Linked DNA regions of Homo sapiens: region 2 is linked to region 1. Evidence: fine-mapped expression QTL. A gene starts in region 1. The other region holds a variant in brackets. All regions are shown on one strand. Distances are between the middles of the regions.

The links. PIP is the estimated chance that this variant, and not a neighbour inherited with it, causes the effect.
Region 2: its variant is fine-mapped to the expression of ADGRB3-DT in whole blood (TOPMed, PIP 0.92).

The regions. Positions count from the first base shown.
Region 1 is chr6:68,630,439-68,638,941 of GRCh38, forward strand. It overlaps ADGRB3-DT (ADGRB3 divergent transcript), which reads right to left and starts at 3,886. Exons shown (of 2, transcript NR_125872.1): 1 at 3,747-3,886; 2 at 2,225-2,618. ADGRB3 (adhesion G protein-coupled receptor B3) reads left to right here and starts at 4,844. Exons shown (of 32, transcript NM_001704.3): 1 at 4,844-5,562; 2 at 6,953-7,124; 3 at 8,223-8,503. The coding sequence starts at 8,238. It overlaps LOC127898563, which reads left to right and starts at 5,452. Exons shown (of 1, transcript NM_001414704.1): 1 at 5,452-5,529. The coding sequence starts at 5,452. The coding sequence ends at 5,529. RefSeq lists a silencer at 4,583-4,792.
Region 2 is chr6:68,734,902-68,742,901 of GRCh38, forward strand. The region is part of intron 3 of ADGRB3 (adhesion G protein-coupled receptor B3); the gene reads left to right. Among named protein-coding and RNA genes, the nearest start is that of ADGRB3, 100 kb to the left of the region's middle. The variant T/C (reference allele first, on the strand shown) is at 3,325.

The sequences.
Region 1 (8,503 bases):
GAGATCCAGAAGGCAAAATGAGAGAATCTGCCAGGAAGAGAAATGGTAGAGATAAGTGGATCAGAATTGGTAGAAACAGGACTGAACATGAATAAATGTTCAGAAATAATAGGTAGTCCATAGACTTCAATACCTGGTGTTGATAAAGCTCAGCAGATGTGCTGTTCCTGGCAGCCTTAGTTATTGTCATCATTAATGATAAAGTGGGACTTCTGTCAAAGAAAAAAATTATCAGAGTGGGAGAGGAATAAAAATGGAAAGGACTGTCTGTACCTCAGAAGATGATAGCAAGGGAGAAAGGCAAAGCTAGTAAAACTATGGAGGTTTTCAAAATTGTGATAGAATAGAGAGGCATTTCCAACCTGTGAGTGGGAAAATTGTGATTCTTTCTAGTCTAGGATTTAATTGCATTTTTCTCTCACTGCTTCCATTTCTTGTGAGACACCTTCTGTTATTTAGACTATGTCAGGAAGAGCCTTAGACATTATTCAATCAAGCTCTTTTCTGTGAGATAACTGAAGTCCAGAGAATTCATAGCTTCTTGTCCTTAATGAGGTATATACTTAGTGTCAGTTTCGTGAGTAAAAATGAAGAATCTTGATTTCTAGTATAATTGAAATTTCAGGGATTAAAGATAATGGTGTAAGTATAGTAACTTTATATGAGAAAATAACTAGCTGAAAAAGGTCAAATTTGGGGGTGAATGTATGTTCGATTGCAAACCCATATTTTGAGGTTTTAAAGTCCATATTTTCCAAGATACTTCTACAGCACACAAATATGACATTATGTGTTACCTACTTACAGCATTTCCTTAATATCACCAATGAAATCTTGAAAATTGATGGCCAAAAGTATTTACCGACTTTTTTTTAACTTGTATCGTTGTATAGGGAAATAATGATAAAAAATGGAAACCTGATGCAACTGGGATTTTTGTAACCTTGACTTTGCCTAGCATGGAATAGGACTACACTTGAACTAACCCAGGATAGCTGTTCTATGACATCTCCCTTAACCCCAAGTCTATCCCTTTATTTTTTAGTACTTCAATGTACTTTCTATTCTGGGATGTCCAAGTAGAAAATGACCAATTTGTTTTTTTACATAGAGACTAGAGGATATACAGCTTGGTTTCTGAGAGACTTCCTTTTTTAATAATAATAAAATAATGATAATAAACAGGAGACAGAGGAGAAGAAGTTGTTTAACTTTATAGTAAATATGCTAATATTAAGGATAAGTTCTCATAACAATGTAATCTTGTAATATTTTGATCATTTAATTAACATTCCAAAGCTTTGTGTATGTGTGTGTATATATATGTGTGTGTATATATGTATGTGTGTACATATATATGTGTATATATATATGTGTGCATATATATATATGGGAGATACTAAATACTAAATACTAAAAACTAAATACTAATACTAAATACTAAAAAATTAAGGCATATTTAACAAGAAATAACCTACAAACCTATCCATGCTTCTTAAAGCCTTACTGAAAATAACAAGTCACAGAGTTTAGAATGTGGTAATACAGTAATATCAGAAAAACTATGACAGAAAGAAGGAAAGAGAAAATACTTTCTAAAATTGAGTAAACATATTCTAGAAACATTCTTATTTGAGTATGAGAATTCTGCAAATGATACTGAATTTTAAGCAATGATCCTGGATTATAGGGTTATTCTCAAAGTGGAGGGACTAAACTTAGCACATACAGACAAAAAGATGAAACAGAAATAAATCACACTTATAACCTCATCATTCCAAAGTAATCTTAATAAAATAATAGCAGGAGAGATAAATTTGAAAGGCTTTAATATTAGATACCTGGGTCAATTTAAAATGCCATACCAGACTATATTTTGATGTGCTAACACTGACCTCTCAATAGTTCTTCTGTAAATCATCAAGGAAACTTATGTAATAATCAATTTATACAATTAATGTGGTAGTTTTGGAATTAAATGCATTACCTTATAAAAGAGAAATACAAAGCAATGTAGTGAAACTTCCCAAGCAAATATATGTGTATCAACTGAAATACACATATACATATCATATACATATATATACACACACGTGTATGTGTACTTACAAATAATGCGTGCATACATATACATATGTATGTATAAAATATGTGTATATGTGTTTATATATGTAAACATAAATATAGACATAGACTTGTGAAAGAGACCAATGAAAGCAGATAATTATAATTTGAAATGGTGATTTTAATATGTATTCAGTCATAAAAGTGGACCAACATCAATAGAAAGGAAAGGACAGAGAGCTGAGGGTGTGTAAACTGCTGCTCTCTTTTTGCTGTTGGGTCAACATGTCAGCAATGCTTTCATATGGAGCAGCTTGCAGACATGAAACAAGGTGGTTCCTCCTTTCTTTGCCTTTGGATTGTGCTGTTGTTAGTGTCCAGAGACCAGACTGTCCATATAGGGTTCTTTTTGTGATTCTTTATTATAATCCCCTGAGGAAGTCAGACGAGCCTGGGGTTACTGGAGACAGTGTCTTGCTTGGCGTAGTTATCATCCACAAATCATCTGCTATAAATATATCTCAGAAGGATCATCATCAGGCCAGCTCAGTAGCCTGCAATTTATGAAGGTTATGAGAAACAATGTGAAGGGTGAAGCGCTTTATTAAGGGTGGCTTTCTTTTCTGACCCTGCCCTGACTTCTACTTGAATATAAATGATCCTGGGAGTAAGTGAACCTTTCCATTTAGGATTTAGGCTTTTAAATTGTCCCTTTCAGCTGTTATTCTTATGCCACTGTGTCATGACTTTAAGAATTTCTAAGAAACATCAAAATCAGTGTTACAAGATAATATGAGAAATCACTAGATGCAAAATAGAGGTATAACTGAACCTCACATTACATTCTTTCCTTTTTATGTATAAACCATCCAAAGCATTTTTTCCTCCGTTTTTATTCCACATCTGTCATGCTTTTTTTTCCTCTGGATAAAGTAACAGAACTGACCAAATTGCCTTGCGAAAATCATAATTACGATCTCTAGGGAAGTTGAAATAAATAAAATGTTTTTCTCCTTTGTGTTGCTCAATGTTCTTTGTTTTTAAAAGAAAATGTGTTGCTTAAACGGTGTTTCAAAATTTGTTCTGGACATAAACCCTAATTATTTCCTTTTAACATTTCCTTAAATGAATAAAAAATATTGTAAAGAACCAAAATGACACAAAACCAAAATGCCACCCAGGCTGCTCTCTTGCCGGTGATTTGTTACTGGGAAAATAGTTAAAGCCTGCTGGGGAATTATTAACTGTTTCCCCTTACAGTGTTTATCCCAGGCATTCGTTTAAGACGGGAAAGCCTTGAAGAGGGTCACTCTATTAATATGCATTAAGAAGTAAAGGACCAATTTTAATATTTCAAACAACTCCAGTGGATAACAGACCATAAACTTCCTGTTTTCACTATCAATCTCTTTTAAAATGGTGTTCTTGGCTATCCATAATCGCCCCAGGGGAGAGAAACAAGCGGAGGAAAAAAATGCAAGAGTGAGGGGAACAAATGATGGAAAATTGCTTTATTCAACTTCACCTGCCGCTCGAGAAACTCACCCTTACGAAGATTCCAGCACTTTATATGAATTACCCATTATGGTTTCCTCCCACCACATCACTGCACTATTTTAGCACTTGTTTTGCAAACCACCAACTGCGTTTACAAGTAGAAACATAATCAGGAGGCGAATGACCTTTTGTAGCATGTATCTGAAGCTGGTTTATCAGACACTTCGTCAGCCAACTGTCCAGGAGGCAAAATGACTATCTATGATGATAGATAGACAGACAGATAGATAGTTAGATTAAAAGGTGGGGAAACATCCCTTTTCCCTTTTTCCTTTCTATATAATCTGGTTTTTTCTCTTCACCCCTTTTCTCGCTTCTTCCCACCCCGTCCCCAAACCTGTTACTAGGGAAACTTGAAAAAGAATCAGATACATTAAGACTACAAAACGAAACAAAAGTTTAGACCCCGAAACCATGATTCCATTGCCAAGCACAAAGCAATGCAAGAGCCCAACGTCGGTCGCCGCACCGCGATCCTGACAAAGCCTGTATGGAGCCAGAACAAATAAGATGTTAATTGCAGCCTCGCAGAGAAAAAAATACTATTGTTCCAGCCAGAGACACTCAGCAGCTCGGTAGCTGGGATGTGCCCCCTCCGCTGCGGACTGGATCAATTCTGAATCCCGGTACTGAAATGACAGCTCTCTGGCTGCGACAGGTCTGCGCTGAAAGAAAGAGAAAGACGATCAAGTCCAGCATTCACTTCCCACCCTTCAGAGTCGCCTTCCCATCCTCCGCACCCCCCTGCCTCGCCTCCCAGTGAGTTTCTCTTACAGTTGGTCGCCGCCAGCCCCAGCGGTGGGAACTGAGGATGCAAAAACCTCCCAGACGCAGAAAATACCGCTTTCGGGACGTGCTTGGGTTTGAGTAGCCGTGACGTGCAGGCGAACCGCGGCCCTGGCTGGAGCTCCGTGGAGCCCCCCTCCCGCCAGCCTCTCCCCCGCCCTCCCGCCGGGACTCCCTCCTCTCCCACCCCGCGGCTCCCTTCGCCTTCTCTCTCACACACCCGCCCGCGCCCCCGGCAGGCAGAACTCCAGGAAGTCGCAGCGGCCGCGCCGCGCGAGCCGAGCCTCTGGCGGGCGGCGGGGCGCACCGCAGCTGTGCATAAGAAGGGCGCGCGGCACCCGGGACGCGCGCGCACACGAGCACGCGGGAGGCCGCCGCGCGGACGCGCTCCCGGGACACGCGCACCCCCCGCGCGCGCGCCCAAGGGAGAGCGAGCACTGCGCGCCGGCGCGCACACCCGAGACAGAGCTTTACTATCTCGCTCCCTCTCGCGCCTCCCTCCTCGCTGGGCATTCAAACAGCTTTCCGACATCACCAGCCAAGGATTTTTTTCCCCGCTCTCCTTAGTCGCCGTCCGTCCATCAGTACCTGCAGGGGGGAGGAGGAGGAGGGAGGAAAGCGGAAAGAGGAAAAAGCATAAGCTTGAGCCTTCCGATCCGACCACGAATACTCCTGTAATAAACCCACCGCCCCAACAAATCTGCCATAGCAGCCGCCGCCGCCGCCGGTCACTTCTCGTCTCAGCGCTTTCTTTGCTTCTTGGTTTGTTGGGGGTAGCTTTTATGAAACAAATCTTTGCTATTAAGCCACTTACATTTTGGGGGGTTCCTTAGAGTCTCCCTTGGGGGGGCTTCTCCCTCCCTTTAGCCCCCCTCGGTTTGGAGGTTGGATTCAGTTGGATACGGCGCAAGGTTCTGGGCTCCTGCTGGCTTTTTTTTCCTCTCTCTCATCGACCCCCCTTTGGTTCCCACCCCCCACCTTTTGCTTTTCGTATGTATGCATTTTTAAAAATAAATCCTGATTTTGGAAGCTGAGCCGGGGAAAATGGGCAACGGTGATTGGGACCGAAGGGGAGTCTCTCCGTCACTGTTGCTGGGACGCGTGCCTGTGCTGGTGTCTTAGAGCAAGAGCCTCCCTGAGCTTTCGGAGTGGAAGGTAAGGAAGGGGGTCCAGGGGTCACCTTTTCTCTGCCGGGGGTCGCCACCGTGGAGCTTTGGGCTTAATGTTTGAGAAGGGAGGAAAATGAAAGGAAAGGCTGTTGCTGGCGGATGGGGAGGCTGTGAGCAGATCCGACTGTCTGCATTTACTTAAACGCCGCAGTTGAAAAGTTAGAGAAGTCTGGTTTTCAAGAGATGTGCTGGGTCAGAAGGAATAAGCGGAGAGACCTAGAAAATCTGGCAGTTTTGTGTGATTGGGGTAATTTTATGAGGGGAAAATTTTAGGTTAAAAGGAAGTTAAGAGAAGGCAGTGGGTCTTCTATTGGGGGGAAAAATCTGTGGAGTGATGGCGCCGTCTATGTTCGACTAAACTAAAGTGTCACCCAGAAAATCAGTTTTGAGAATAGCTAAACTCAATGCTGGTTTGCTTCTCAGCAAGAGATAAATAAATAAATAAATAAATAAATAAATAAATAAAACATCCTTGACACCTCCGTGGCCAGCCTTTGCCCCCGCCCCCACCCCTTCTTTAAGAGGGAAACACGGCTTTTTGAACGGGCCCTGCAGTCCAAAGGGGGGTGAGGGTAATGATTTATTTTTTATTATTTAGAACAAAATAAGACTGTGTACTCCAGACTGATTAAAAATAAAGAGCATTATATTGAGTGCGCTCTCTTGAGCAGGCATTAAAGTGAATTCAGAGCTATTTCCTCACTCTCTGATCATTGATGAGCACGGCATTGCAGACATGCACTGTCAAATAAATGAAAGCAAAAGTACCAATTTCATTAGGAAAAGACATACGACCTCTTTTTGAGTTCCTGATTATAAAATGAAGTCCCCTTTCATGGATGGAATTCCTAATTTAGACACTTATTGTCACATTGGCTCTCAACGCCTACACTCTATCCTGAAGAACACTGCGCAGACCTGCATTGCCTGCAAAGTGCAACACCAAAAAAAAAAAAAAAAAAAGGAAATTATTTCCAGAATTTCTTACAACTTTCTCTGTTTTTTTTTAACCTTTAAATGCTCATTGGCTTTATTTTCTCATGAAGAAAATGCATTATTCATTGAGCTATTTGCTTGAAACAGAGAACACTGTTTTGATGGTCCCAGCAGTTCTGATGTTATTTTAAACTGCTGCTATATAGAGATTTAGAGTTGGGGCTGTGTTTGCCTATATCAAGACATAGAATTTGAATTATAATCTGGAAAATGCAGATCTATCTTCAGGGACTTCGGTCACTGGATTTGGTGTGCATGCGTTGGTGTGTGTTATGCAATGGGAAGGAAGAGGGTTTTATCCTTTGATTCAGAGAAGACCCAGGCAAAGGCATGAAAACTCTTAACTATCTATATGTCTGTATGTCTGTCTCTGTTTACAGAACAGTGGAAGAGACTGCAGCCTAAAGACTTTTAAAATTAACTTGGCATCACTTTTATCAGCTCAAAGGCTAAACAAACAAACAAAAGCAGTGTCATTTATTCTAAGAAATAACTTCTTAAAGGTTAAAGCTGAAAAATATTCAAGTTATTTTTGGATAACAACTTACAGAGGTAAATATAACCAAGGACTACTTTATTATCCAAAGCCAGGGTTAAAATTAAAAAAGAAAAGAAAAGAAAAGAGGAGCTTTGGAGTTGTTGTTGGAAAGGGAGCAATTTAATAATTGAAATCTGCTAGGAACAAAAATGTTAATGTATTTTATTACCATGTGTAAGCCTTAAATTACAGTTGATAAGATAATTTTTCAAAAATTAAAAGACTGAAACCAGCTCAATTACTATGGTTCTGGATTTTTTTTTTTTTTAACTGATATCACCTTTGGATACAGATACTAATACAGTGATCCACTTTATGTATCCCAAAAGGGCATGTCACATTGAAATGACTGCCCTAAATCCTGGTTCTCAATGGTGATGTTGAACAACAAGTCTTCCCTATGTATTTATCCATCTATGCCCTTTCTCAAATGATGGTTTTAAAATTAACTAATCCACATGAATGCCCATGTTTTTGCAAAGGAATTTCTGAGCAGTTCACATGGTGGCCCCTGCAAAGGCAAGTGGGGCATTTGGGAGATGATGTTCCATCTGTAATAAATTATTATTTGTGCTTTTAAAATTGTGGCCATAATTTATCATCATTACTTTTCACGTTTAAGAGGAGAGAAATAATGTGATGACAGCTGTTCCCAGATTATCAGATTAGATTTTGTATGATAGTGTTTACCGCAGAGGACAGAGAGAGAAAAGGTTGTATAGACTATAGACTGATTAATACTATTTCGACAATTAACATTTACATTATGACGTTTTAAAACTCCATGTTTTCCCTTTTCATTCGATAGAATGATAATGGACGTGGAGGATATCCTAGTAGATAAGTTAGGGCATTCCTATTAATAATCTATTAAATGTTATTTTTAAATTGAATGTTGCGAATTTGACCATTGTGAATGGCCACATGAGGGCGCTGTTCACACAGCAACAGATAATTTTCCTGTGTTATAAAATAAAAATTACCTGCCCTTCTTTTAAAAAGGGCTTTTTACTGAAATCTTGAAAACAGCTGGCTGTAATATTGAAAGGAGTTTATTTTCTCAATGCACGTAGACTCCTACTTGCATTTTACTTTCATTGCCATTTTTACAGGCCAAATGACATAGGATGAAGGCTGTTCGTAACCTGCTGATTTATATATTTTCCACCTATCTCCTGGTTATGTTTGGATTTAATGCTGCCCAAGACTTCTGGTGTTCAACTTTGGTGAAGGGAGTCATTTATGGATCGTATTCTGTAAGTGAAATGTTTCCTAAAAACTTTACAAACTGCACTTGGACGCTGGAAAATCCAGATCCAACCAAATATAGCATTTACCTGAAATTTTCCAAAAAGGACCTTAGCTGCTCTAACTTTTCACTCCTGGCTTATCA
Region 2 (8,000 bases), 100 kb after region 1:
AGAGTTTAACTTGGGTTTCTACTAGGGATTTCAGCACTTGAAGGAATAAAGTGAAGTGATAAAAACATAGAGATGACACAGGGTCAAATAATACTATGAAAATATGGAATACTAGTGCAAAGATTGAAGAAAATTTCTAATATTATAATAGCTTATGTCACTGACCATAATTTAAAAGCTATGTATTATTGTATTCTACATATATAAATATGTATTTTTATTTTTTTACTTGTAATGAGAAACCAAAGCTTTTAAATTAGGAGTCAATGACATAAGCATGATCAAAAATATTGTCGAATGAATGAATAATTAAGTTAAATTCCAGAATGAAGGTTACTTAAAATATAAAATACAAATAATTTAATCTAAGACATACGTGAAAAAATATGTTTGCCTATTTTCTGAAAGTTTCATCAGTGCTTGGAATAGCTAACATATTTTTAATTTTCTACAATAGAGAATAAAGTGATGATACAATTGAGAGGAATTAAATTGAATTAGAATTATATACTGTGTAAATATATATGATAGATAAGAATATAGGAAATCATTTACAAATTAGAAATAGAAAAGATATCTATTAATTTATTATGCAAGTATTTGGAAAGTACCAGAAAGATGATGTTGATTTAAGAATATAGTTGTGCTCATATATTGATAAATTTAAATTTGTCAAATTAAACTGATTAAAATTTTTGGAACTTTTTAGCATTCTAAGTTTTGAGGTTATAATGAAATTATGAGGAAAATGCTTTTAAACTGAATAACCCAGGGATTGTCTTTTTACCATGCTTGTGTGAGATCATTATTCCATGGACGCTTATGGCATTAGACTGAATTGATTTTATAGAGAAAAAGAACTCAAGATTGCATAAGCCCATATTAGCAGCAAATTCCTAATATCTAAGTTTCTTTCTGTCTTAAAATAGATGAATTTTTCCATTTCGATGAAAGGTTTTGGATGAAAAGATTTTGCAGTCTTTATAGAGCAGCAATCACTGAGTGCTACAAAATATTTTATTACATTTTTTTGCCTTGAATTTTGCATTATGGGTAAAGAACTGTGTGACTTAAAATAGCTTACCAATCTTTCAGGAAGTTAGAAAATATTTCATTGTTGTTGATTTAGAGACTGAGTCTTGTTCTGTTGCCCAGTTTGGAATGCAGTGGTATGATCATGGCTCACTGTAGCCTCAAGTTCCTGGGCTCAGGAGATCCCTCCTGCTTCAGCCTCTCCTGTAGCTGGGACTATAGGCACTTGCCAACATGACTGGCTAATTAAAAAAAAAAAAAAATTTATAGAGATAGGGTCTCTCTTTGTTGCCCAGGCTAATCTCAAACTCCTGGGCTCAAGCTATCCACCCGGCTCAGCCTCTCCAGTGCTAGAACTAGAGGCGTGATCCGCCATGCCCAGCCAGAAAATAATTCTTTAAAAATTTTACAACATAATTAACATTGAATATCTCTATTGTAATAAAATATAATAAACTGTATTAAGTGGCACTCTACTTATCTGCAATTGCTGATGTCAGTTGACAGCAAGGTTTGTTTTCCCACAGTGTGAGTGTCTCTACTAATTAGACTTAATTAAATGCAGATATATTACTGTTCTGTGTAAGATTTCAATGAGGACTTTGAGAAAAAGATCTCTGGATGGATAACAGAGAGAGACTGAAGCTGGAAAGCCTTGAAAAGTCCCCAAAACAAGACTAAGAAGCTTTTAGAGGACTTGTGCACTTAGAGATGACCAAAAGAGAATGAAGATTAAATTTTGCAAAAATAAAATGCTAAATATTGAATAAATAATTTTAGTTGCTTAGTTAATATAGTATCTTACAATTTTTCTATGTTCCTAAGGGAAGCAGGAACATATTTAAAATTATTATTTTTACATTTTTTAATACAGAAAAGTTTATCCCAGTACCTAGAAGCTGGGTCACTAATAATGACAACTATTAGTCACTACTAATAGTTGCTTTATTTTCTGTCAGTTTTTCTCTCTTTTTTAACAACTTGAATTAGTCATGTTTAGTATTTTAATATGTTACACCTTTTGATAAGGATATTTTCCCTCAATAAGTTGTAATAAACATTTTCCCATATAGTAGCAAATATTACTTACGGCTATGTTTTAATCTGTGAGAAAAGTATAATTTGCTTAAATTTTATTTGTGGTCATTTTTAGTAATGTTCCAGTATTATAAAAATGTTAAGAATAAATGTTTTCATGCTTAAATTTGTATATGCATCTTAGATTATTATTGCTCATCAGTGGAGTTACTGTATTAAGAGTTATGAATCAAGTATAAGAATTGTATCAAATAATTGTCCCTCTGCCAGGAGCCAGCTCTCCACATCCTTCATAGCACTGAGTATTTTGTGGTTTGTTATTTAGTAGGGAAAAAAGACATTCTTTTTTTGCATTTATTTAATTACTAGTGATGTTGCACATTTTTTCACATGTTTAAGGGATGTGTATAATTTTTCAATGGTATTTTTGTCATTACTTGATGTAAACCTCCATTTTGAATATAAGAACATTGTTTCTCAATAATAAGTGTTTTGATTCCTTTGAGCTGGAATCAGAATTGAAGTTCAGGTCTTCAGACTCCAAAATTGCAAGTTCTTGCCACTTGTTCCCCCATACAATAAGAATATTATTATCAAGCACTAAATAGACAACAAGAAGTGGAGTGACTGTAGAGACCCAAGATTGGAAAGTGGGTTCAGGAGAACTGTGGGCCCTGGAATAAGACAGTCCAAACATAAATTGTCCATGTTCCTTTATGAGCTTGTAATCTCGTCGTTCTCAATGATTACAAATCAGCTCAGCTTCCTATAAATGACTCTTCCAAAGGAAAGCCAAAAAAAAGGTTAGACTGAAAGTCTTCAACAATAAATATTTACTGAATTCTTCCTACCGGGCAGGTACTACTTCAGGGCCTAAGAGCACAACAAAGTAGCCAAGAAATACCTGCTTTATGAGAGTTCAGGGTTTAGTGGGTGAGGCCAAAAATAAATATGTTAATCAATTAAATCTATGCGTATAATCACAGTTGGTGAAGTGTTATGAAGAAAAATAAAGGAGAAAGGGAAAGGTGTTGCTAGGGAGAATGGACAAGTTTGACTAAAGTGATCAAGAAAGACCTTACTAAGAAGAAATTGAGAGCAAAGATCTGAAAGGGAATAAGGATGAGCCATGCTAATGTTTTGGGATAAGGGTTCTCATCAGAAGAAATGGCAAATGCAAATACATAAAACAAAAGCATTGCTGGGAATTTGGAGGAAATGCAGGAAAGCCATTGTGGCAAACTCAGGAAGCCA[T/C]TGAGGCTTGTGCAAACTGATAGCAGATGAGATCTCAGTGGTGAGGAGAGAGAGAGCACTTGTATTACCTTGCAGGCCAGTATGAGGACTTTGGCTGTCTCTCTGAGCAAAATGGGGACTGACTGGAGGATTTTCTGTCAAAGAGTGACATTATCTGACATACATTTTAAATGGCCCATAGACTGAGAACAGCTGGGGGACAAAGCTAGAAGCAGGGAGATGAATTAGGGGGGAAATAAGTTGGGAGGCTATTTCTATAACCTAGGGGTGAAAATGACAGTGGACTGAACAAAGGTGATAATTTTGGCTAGAGGGAGAAGGTCGTGAAGATAATGAGAAATTATTTGAGTCTGGCTATGTTTTGAGGGAAGAACCAACAAGATTTCCTAAAGTATAAAATATGAAAATAAGAGTTATCAACAAAACTGACGTTAAGGTTTTTGGCATGAGCAATTTTAAGAATGGAGTTATTTTCTGAGATGAGGAAAAAACAAATTTTGCAGGAAGATTACTAGTTTGATTTGGGTCAAAGTAAGTCTGTGATGTATATTTCACATTCAAATAAAAAGTTTCAGAGGGATGTCCAAATAAAGATTAAAATATGGGAGCTGTCAGTGGATATTTACAGTTACAAAATTGTATAATCTTACCAAGAAAGTGATTGTAAATAGAGAAGGGGTCTGAGGATTATGATCTGGGTCACTCCAACAGATTGGGGACATGAAGAGGATACAGGAAAGGAGACTAACATGAACTGGTCAGTAAGGTAAAACACTAAGAATGTGATACCTTATATGTCAAGTAAAAGGAACAGGTGCAAGCAAATGTTTCAAATTCTGCTATTGGTCAACTAAAATGAGGACCAATCATTGACTACTGACTTAGAAACGTAGCGATCATTGATGATGACCTTACCAACAATACTTTACCTCTGGTGCAATTTTAAAAGGTAGAAGGCTGAATGACCTGAATGGATTGGATTTAAGGGTAAATACGAAGAAAGGGATCGGAAGCAATGAGTAAGGAAAGATCTTTGTAGGAATTTTGTTGGAAAAAAGAACTGGCAAATTAATTGTATATTGGCAAGGTATGTGTGGTCAAGTGAGGGTTTTGTTTAGTTTTAGTTGGGAGAAAGTTTTTCATGTTTTTATATGCTTACTAGAATTTCTGCAGAAATTGAAAAATGATTACATAGGAAACAAAGAGAATAAGAGCTTGTCTTTAGGTAGGTAAGAGGGGATGGGGCCTGATGCACAATTGGAGGGATTTTCTTCAGATAGCAGAATGAAGGGAGATGAGAGAAGTCAGAGTGCACAGGTCTAGATGCAGGTAGGTGATAGACATGATGGTGAGAGCCTTTGGCAACTCTGTTCTATTTGTTTACATTTTTTGAGAATAAACAGCTGAGAGTGAGGATAGCAGGTGTTTAAGATATGGAAAGAGAGGAGAAGTGAAATAGTTGACCAGAAAAGAGAGTTAATCTGATTTATTTTCTAAAAAGAAAATTACTGTGGTACTAAATGAAATCTACAGAATGTTTACATATTCAAATTGTAGGTTAATTATGAACACACATCAAGCCATCACATAGTTAGCTGTAGAGTTTAAGCCATCAATAGTCATTTAGTTTCATTATCTCACTTGTTTGGTTTTAATTAACTTTCTATGTTTTTGTTTAACTTTGTGTACTATTAGTATCGAAAGGTTGTAGCTTGTTAATAGAGATGCTTATTTAGCATTTTCAAGTGAAAAACAACATTAATAACAGGTACAACATTATTATTAATAATAATAATGCCAATTATTCAGAAGTGGCAGGTCTATACAAAACTCTCTGACACTCTATTTTATCAGTTATTTTATACTTGATTAGGCTTATATAACATTTTCTACTTCTGCAATTTTCTGATAATTAATAAAGAATTTCCTTTACACAAATCTCAGGCTTTATTTTAGGGAATGGAAGTCTGTGCTACTAAAAATTGCATAGTGTTGTGTGTCTGGGCAGGCTTTTCAAAGACCTCTGTTATCACTTATATCCAAAGTGATAAGTCTGGGCGTGGTGGCATAGGCCATAACTCCAGAACTTTGGGAGGCTAAGGCAGCAAGATCGCTTGAGCCCAGGAGTTGGAGACCAGCCTGGGCAATATAGTGAGACCTGGTCTCTATAAAGAAAAGAAAATGTGATAAATAGGAAACAAATATCAATAAGAAGCAAGTAAATATTCTTATGGGTAATTAGAGCATCTTTAAGAAAAAAACATCAATTTGTATCAATAACCTTGGATGAGAATATGGTAGAAGGGTAGATTTTGGACTAGATACAACTGTTTATTAAAAAAATTCCAATTTGGCTACTAAGAATGAAGCATATATTTCATAGGAATCATGTCCTTGTATGGGCCACAATGTCAGTGTTAATTTTTACATGTTATTATAATATATGCATGCAATGGTTTTAAAATTGTCCCTTAACAATATTATGTGTTAGTAAAACATAATATTTATTTATCCATTATGTTGTGCAAAACTACCTTTGGTGTATCTATAGAAGGATGTCAGAAATACTTTATAGGATTTAAATTGGGGCAAAACCGTTTGTTTCATTTCTTCTATTCCCTTAACAAAGATAAAGTGAGTTTGTTTGAACTGGAACATAGTTAAGTGTTGATAGGCCATGTCAGTCTTCTGTATGAACTCCTCACCCCCACCAACTTCCTGTTTCTCTGAAGTGCATGCATACAGTGATATATGTTTTGGTTTTCTAAGAAGGGAAAGGAAGCAGAAGAATACAGAATGAGCTTGTGAGTTTTGAAACTTTGGGACAAACATGGAAGTTGGTGAAAAACCATTTGTCAGTTTGCTTGACAGGAAAAAAAAATGAAACAAATGCATGCATGGACACAAAATGGTGTATCTAGTGTCTGCATAGGGCTTCCTATGTGCTAGGCACTATTACAAGTGTTTACATTTGTTAACACATTTAATTCTCATGAAACTACCACAACAAAAACTATTTTTATCCACATCTTACAGATTATGAAACTAAGGCACCCGGAGATAAAGTAACCTCCTAAAGGTCAAAGGTCACATAGCTATCAAATGTGAGAGCTGGTATTTGAATACAAGCAGTCTGGCTTTTTTTAAATTTTTTTTAATATTTTATTTTTGAGACAGGGCCTGGCTCTGTTGCCCAGGCTGGAGTGCAGTGCTGTGATCATGCCATCATGGCTCAACTGCAACCTCCACCTCGCCAGCTCAAGCCATCCTCCAACCTGAGCCTCCCGAGTAGCTGGGACTACAGACATGTGCCACTATGCCCAGATAAACTTTTGTAGTTTTTGCAGAGGCAGGGTTTCACTGTATTGCCCACGCTGGTCTTAAACTCCTGAGCTCAAGTGATCCTCCCACCTCACCCTCGCAAAGTTCTGAGACTACAGGCTTGAGCACTGTGCCTGCCCTGGCCTTCTTAACCACTGTTTGTTACCTTTTCTATCATAAGTATAGAAGAGTAATCTAATATCAAACTGGCTGATTAAGGTGACAGGTTGAATTATTGTCATCAGTTTTTTACAACCTAAACATTTTTGCTTCTGATGAAATGTTCTTTAAAAATTCTTTTCAGCATTCCTTTTTGCATTCTTCTTCTTATAACGTTTTAGCTAAATATGCAAATTCATTATCATTCACGAGTTCACATGTTGTTTAAGTAGGAAGGACCACATGGGAAAATTCATAAAAACTTTGAACACAAGTTTCTGTGTTAAAAATGCAAAGAACTGAATGTTCATATATCTTTTGTTTGAAGAATTTAGCTTAAAATATGAAGAAAACTACATGGAAACACTTTCCCTGAAATAAGTTAAAATTGTGATGTCATTCACTGACTATTATTGCTTTGCCACTGACTTCTGAAGAAATCCTAGGAGATAAATTGCTTGTGGTGTTTTCTCCCCAGTCTTATCACAAGTCATTGCTAATGAGTGGCTTCTTCATGATGTAAACTAGTTTCAAATTCAGCATATATTGTAATTCTTCCAGTTCTCATTAAGCACACTGTTTATATATTATGTCTCAACATAAATATATGAATGGAAATTTAATCCTTTCTATGACAGGTCATACACATTTTAAAGGAACTCTTATAGTTTTTTTTTTCTTTCTCTGGGTCTTGACTCTGACAGAGGGGAAAAAGAAAAATAAAAGCACTATCTATATTAATCATTCTCAGGAATAAGGCTGATTCTTTGAAAAGTGAGTTGTTATAGTTGAAAGGACAGGTTTAAAATTTGGATTAGAAATTGAAACCTGACTCCTCTGCTTCCCACATCTGCACCACCCAAAGAAGTCACTTACTCTCAATAAACAGAGAATAATAAATGCCTACCACATAGATTTTCTGTGAAGGTTAAGTTAGAATAAAGGAGAGGTGAATATTTCACCACAGTATTTGGCACTAAGCAGGGAATCACTAAATGTTAAATCATCCTAAAATATTAATTGAAGTCTTAAGAAATAATGTGATAATAAAGTAGCCACGTAAACTTCTAGATATTGTTTTTCCTCAAAAAGGAAAATAAACTAAATGGTGTGAACATTAAAACATCTATTAATATTTTATATAGTGGGATACATGTAATTTTAATATATTTTTTATAATTTTCTATTTTTTCCTA